2 separate regions of the Homo sapiens genome follow, and region 1 is linked to region 2. The links come from fine-mapping of genetic effects on gene expression. A gene starts in region 2. The other region holds a variant in brackets. All regions are shown on one strand. Distances are from middle to middle.

Region 1 (2,907 bases), 32 kb after region 2:
TAACCTCAAATCAAAAATCATATAACAGATACACAAAAAATAAAAAGCAAGAAATTAAAACACCCCACCAGAGAAAATCACCTTCACTAAAAGGAAGACAGGAAGGAAGGAAAGAAGGAAGAGATGACCACACACCCAAAAATAAAATAACAGGAGTAAGTCTTTATCAGTAACAACATTGAATGTAAATGGATTAAACTCTTCAATCAAAAGACATAGAGTGGCTGACTGGATTGAAAAAAACAAGATCCAGTGACCTGTTGCCTACAGGAAACACACTTCACCTATAAAGACACACATAGACTGAAAAAAAAAAAAAGGATGGAGAAAGATATTCCATGCTAATGGAAGCCAAAAAAGAACAGGAGTAGCTATGCATATATCAGACAAAAACTTTTAGAAGAGACAAAGAAGGTCATTGTATAATGATAAAGAGGTCAATTTAGCAAGAAGATATAACAGTTGTAAATATATATGTACCCAATACTGGAGCACCCAGATATGTAAAGCAAATATTAGAGCTAAAAAGAGAGATAGGATCTTCCAAACAGAAAATCAGCGAAGAAACATCACTCTTAATCTGTACTATAGACCGAATGGACCTGGTAGTTACAGAACATTTCATCCAGTGGCTCCAGAATACACATTCCTTTCCTCAGCACATGGATCATTCTCAAGCATAGACCATATGTCAGGTGACAAAGCAAGTCTTAAAACATTAAAAAAAACCCCTGAAATAATAGCATGTATCTTCTCTGATCACAATGGAATAAAACTAGAAATCAATAACAAGAATAATTTTGGAAACTATATAACCACATGGAAATTAAACAATGTGCTCCACAATGACTAGTGGGTTAATGAAGAAATTAAGGAGGAAATTGAAAAATTTATTAAAACAAATGATAATGGAAACATGACATACCAACAACCCATGAGATACAACGACAGCAGTACGAAGTGGGAAGTTCATAGCTATAAGTACCTACATCAAACAAGAAAAAAAAATCTTCAGCTAGATAACCTAATGATGTACCTTATGCAGCTGACAAAGCAAGAGCAAACCAAACCCACAATTAGTAGAATAAAAGAAATAATAAAGATCGGAGCAGAAATAAATTGAAATGAAGAAAACAATACAAAAGACCAACAAAATGAAAAGTTGGTTTTGTGAAAAGATAATCAACAAACATTAGATAGACTTAGGAAAAAATAGAAAAGACTCAAAATCAAAGATGAAAAAGGAGACATTACAGCTAATACTGAAAAAATTAAAAAGATTATTCATGGGTACTATGAACAACTATATACCAATAAATTGAAAAATCTAGAAGGAATGCATAATTCATAGACACATACAACTTATCAAGATTGAACCTTGAAGAAATCCAAAACCTGAACAGAGCAATAACAAATAACAGGATTGAAGCCGTAATAAAATATCGCCTAGCAAAGCCAAGTCCAAGACCTAATGGCTTTGCTGCAGAATTCCACCAAACACTTAAAGAAGAACTGATACCACTGCTGTCAAACTATTCTGAAAAATAGAGGAGGAGGGAATATTCCTAAACTCATTCTGTGAGGCCAGCAGTACCCTGATACCAAAGACCAAAGACACATCAAAAAAAAAA[AG/G]AAGAAAACTACAGACCAGTATTCCTGATGAATACTGATGCAAAAATCCTCCACAAAATACTAGCAAACTGAACTCAATAATACATTAAAGGAAAATTGATCATGATCAAATGAGATATATCCCAGGGATGCAAGGATGGTTCAACATATGCAAATCAGTCAGTATGATACATCGTATCAAGAATGAAAAACCATATGATCATTTCAATTGATGCTCAAAAAGCATTTAATAAAATTTAATATTCCTTCATGATAAAAACTCAATAAACTGGGTATAGAAGGAACATACCTCAACACAATAAAAGCCATTTAAGACAGACCCACAGCTAGTATCACACTGAATGGGGAAGACTGAAAGCCTTTCCTCTAAGATCTGGAACATGGCAAGGATGCCCACTGTCACTACTGTTACTCAGTGTATTACTGGAAGTCCTAGCAAGAGCAGTCAGACAAGAGAAAGAAAGAGCATCCAAAGTGGAAAGGGAAAAAGTCAAATTATGCTTGTTTGCAGATGATTTGATCTTATATTTGGGGAAACATAAAGACCCCACTAAAAAACCATTAAATTCAGTAAATTTGCAGGATATGAAATTAGCATACAGAAATCAGTAAGATTTCTGTATGCCAACAGTGAACAATCTGAAAAAGAAATTGAGAAAGTAATCTCATTTACAGTAGCTACAAATAAAATGCCTATGAATTAACTGATGAAGTGAAAGATCTCTGCAATGAAAACTATAAAACATTGATGAAAGAAATTGAAGAGGACACAAACAAATGGAAAGATATTCCATGTTCATGGATTGGGAGAATCAATATTGTTAAAATGTCCATAGTTTCTATAGCAATCTACAGATTCAATGCAATCCCTATCAAAATACCAATGACATTCTTCACAGAAATAGAAAAAGCAATTCTAAAATATATATGGAACCACAAAAGACCCAGAATAGCTAGCCAAAGCTATCCTGAGCAAAAATAACAAAATTGGAGGAATCACATTACCTGACTTCAAATTATACTACAAAACAGCATGGTACTGGCATAAAAACAGACACACAGGTCAATGGAACAGAATAGAGAACCCAAAAGCAAATCCATACATCTACAGTGAACTCATTTTCGACAAAGGTGCAAAGAACATACATTGAGGAAAGGACAGTCTCTTCAATAAATGGTGCTGGAAAAACTGAATATCCGTATGCAGAAGAATGAAACCAGACCCATGTCTCTTGCCATATATAAAAACCAAATCAAATTGTGTTAAAAACTTAA
Region 2 (2,907 bases):
TCTTAGGCCTGACTGCACTTCTGAGAACAGCTGTCTGGGATCTCAACTTCTGAAAAAACGGTGGAGTAATCCAGCTCAGCCTCCACACAGCCCCGTGACTCAAAAAAAAAAAAAAAACCTCCCTGGGCATGGGGAAGAGGTATTCCTCTTCTGAGGACCCCAAGGGAGGTCGATAAACTCCCCCGTAGATGGTCTGAACAGAGCAGGAAGGTTCATGTGTGGTGGTGGGGTGCACTGCTTAGATAAGCACCCTCACTGGCAGATAAGGAAGCCGAGCTCACCTAGCCTGTTAAGGAGCAGGCAAAGTGGACTGGCACCCAGAGATCCTGACTCCCAGACAAGGGCTTCCTCTATGGCCTCTCCTGCCTCTTCTACTTTTCCTCGTGCTTATTATCCTGCACCTGTTTCTTTTTTAAAATAACCCATAGAACACTTCCTGACGCAGATTCTAGTCCTGCTGTGTAACCTTTAGAAAGGCTTCCCTCTATGGGCACTTGCCTCCCCGTCTGTGAAACGGGGGCCTCGGCCTTAACGTTCTCTTGGCTCCCTCTCAGCGGAGTCAGTGATGTTTGACTTGAATGCCCTGCAGTAGAGTGCCGCCGTTTCCTTTGCAGAGCAACTGCCTTTCCGCCCTACAATCGCAATGGCCTGGCACCTGCGGCCAGCCGCAAAGCGACTTGTCCTTGCTCGCCTCTCTCGCGCACATCTAGCTGGTAGGGAGAGTAGGGTGTTGAGGGGCTGAGAGGAAGAAAACGCCGGAATTCTCGTATCCCACAGGCATGCTGCGCCCCCCTCCCCACTGCAAACGTTTCCCTGCGAGCGTCGTCCCCCGCGCCCCCCGACACACACACACACACACACACACACACACACACACACACACACACACACACACACACACGCAAAGGCAGGCAGGAGGCGGGGGCGGCCTGTGCGCGTGCGTCGGCGCGGAGCCCTCTCCCGCCCACGTGCGCGCCCCCGAGCGGAGACGCGCGCGCCGGGGCGAGCTGGCGGGAAAGCGCGCGGGAAGCCCCCGGCTGGCTCCCAGCGTGGGGGAGGGAGGGCAGGAGGCGTCTGGAACGTGCCACTCTCGGAGAGAAAGGGGGGATTTTCGCGTGGCGCTGGCGTTTCTACACCTCCCACCCACCGACCAATCCGTTAGCTTCCCCCTTCCCCTGCCGCGGTACGAAGCCCCGTGCCGTGGCCTAGCTCCCTCCTGGCAGCCCGGACCGGCCCCTCGAACCCCGCTCTGGACAGAGCGGTTCCCTCAGCATCCGGAGCGGGGCGCTGCGCCGCGCGGCGAGGCCGGAAATTCCCGCGGCCTGAGTGGTGGAGCCCTAGCGGGGAGAGCGGCGCCACCTTCCTCCTCCCGGGCGGGCGGGGGCGTTAGGCCCAGCGAGGGCCGGGCCGCCTGAGTGGGTGGGGTGGGGGCCGCTGCGTCCGCCGGGAGCGGCGGCGCAGGCGGCCGACCGGGAGCGCGGACAACGCGGCTGCGGCTAACCCGCCGCCCGGCCGGCTGAGACCCTCGCGCCCCTGCTCCTGGGGCCCCCGCCCCCTCGCCGTCTCCGCCTCCTTCCTCACACACCCCCGGGCCGCCCGGGCCGCCCGGGCCCCAAGCCTTCCCGGTGCTCCTCCCTCGTCTCCTCACACTCGCTCTCTGGCTGGGGTCCGCCTGCCGCCCGCTGGCCTGCTCCCTCCGGGGCAAGTCTTGCTTCTTAAGCGCTCCTTTCACACACGCGCGCGCTCGCTGGGCCGTCCCCTCCTCTCCGGCCCTCCTCCTCCTCCTGGTCCTTGCTAACGCTGCCGTCGGGGAGGATTGATGTCCCTTCAGCATCATGCAGCCGCCGCCGAGGAAGGTAAGGGCGCAGCTGGGGGGCTTTGGGGTTCGGAGAGATGCGTACGCGGAACGCGGCTGGGGCGACCGCTGCGCCCCTTCCCCCTCCCGCAAGGGGCCGTGACCGCCCTCGTCTTGGGCTTGTCACCGACTTGCCGCCGGCTCCAGGTGGGGGGCGCGCGTGTGAGTTGCCTTTCCGACAGAGGGGCCGCCGGGGCTCGTCCGTCCTCTAACGCAGGAGACCCCCAGACATTTCACAAGAGTTTCGGGTGTGCATTTGTGTGTGTGCGCGCGCATGGCAATGCTGCCCGCTGCAAAGTGCATTCTCGGGGCTGCACCGAGGGGGAGGCGGGGACGCCCCTGCAGCTTTGCAGAGCCTTGTGCGTGTGTGATTGTTTAGTCTGCACCAGCTTTGAGCCCTCCAGCCGCTTGTCGCCAGCCCCGCCCGTTTGCAAATTTGCGGGGGATTTGTTTCTAGCCTAGCCTTAGGGTTTGGCCTGCTTTTCCCACGGGGCGGCCGAAAAGAAGTTGGAATAGTCACCGCCTCCCCACCCCAAGGGAAAACAAATTAAGGATTGACGGGTCCTGCCTCGTCCCCGGCTGAGGGGCGAGGAGGCTGTCGTGCTGTCTTCAGAAAAGCGAGGACCGGGCCCGGGAGGTGCGTGGGGTGTGCACTGCGATCCGGGGTTGGATGACCAGGGTGGGAGTGACGGATGCACCCGGCTTGTCATCAGTCTCCCCGCTGCGCCCTTCCCCAGCTTTCCCAGGGGCCGAGGCTGTGTCCTTGTCTTTTTAATCCTACAGATGGATACTGAATGTCTACTCTGGGCACTGGGTGGATGAGGCCGTTCTGTCCTCCCCTCGTGGGCAAACATTTGCCTAACGCCTAACTCACCCGTGTCTGCTGCCGCTGCTTTCTCTCTTTCCTAATCCGGGTTTCTCCATTTAAGTGAGTCCTTTTCTTTCGAACATGTACCCCCACCCCTCCGGGTGGTCCCACTGCTGAGGCCGAGATTCCAGACTGACCGTTAACTTCGAACCCTGGGGCCCCGGCCTGGCGGGCGAGGCTCTCT

What was found. PIP is the estimated chance that this variant, and not a neighbour inherited with it, causes the effect. A credible set is the group of variants that fine-mapping cannot tell apart.
Region 1: its variant is the best candidate, but not a certain one, in a credible set for the expression of FCHSD2 in whole blood (INTERVAL, PIP 0.53).

Annotation. Positions count from the first base shown.
Region 1 is chr11:73,108,876-73,111,782 of GRCh38, reverse strand. All of the region lies in intron 2 of FCHSD2 (FCH and double SH3 domains 2), which reads left to right. Among named protein-coding and RNA genes, the nearest start is that of FCHSD2, 32 kb to the left of the region's middle. The variant AG/G (reference allele first, on the strand shown) is at 1,632.
Region 2 is chr11:73,140,806-73,143,712 of GRCh38, reverse strand. It overlaps FCHSD2 (FCH and double SH3 domains 2), which reads left to right and starts at 1,395. Exons shown (of 20, transcript NM_014824.3): 1 at 1,395-1,856. The coding sequence starts at 1,836. RefSeq lists enhancers at 247-386, 467-576, 2,447-2,676, 2,176-2,797, 2,897-2,907 and 1 more and silencers at 807-1,186, 1,347-1,726, 2,127-2,266.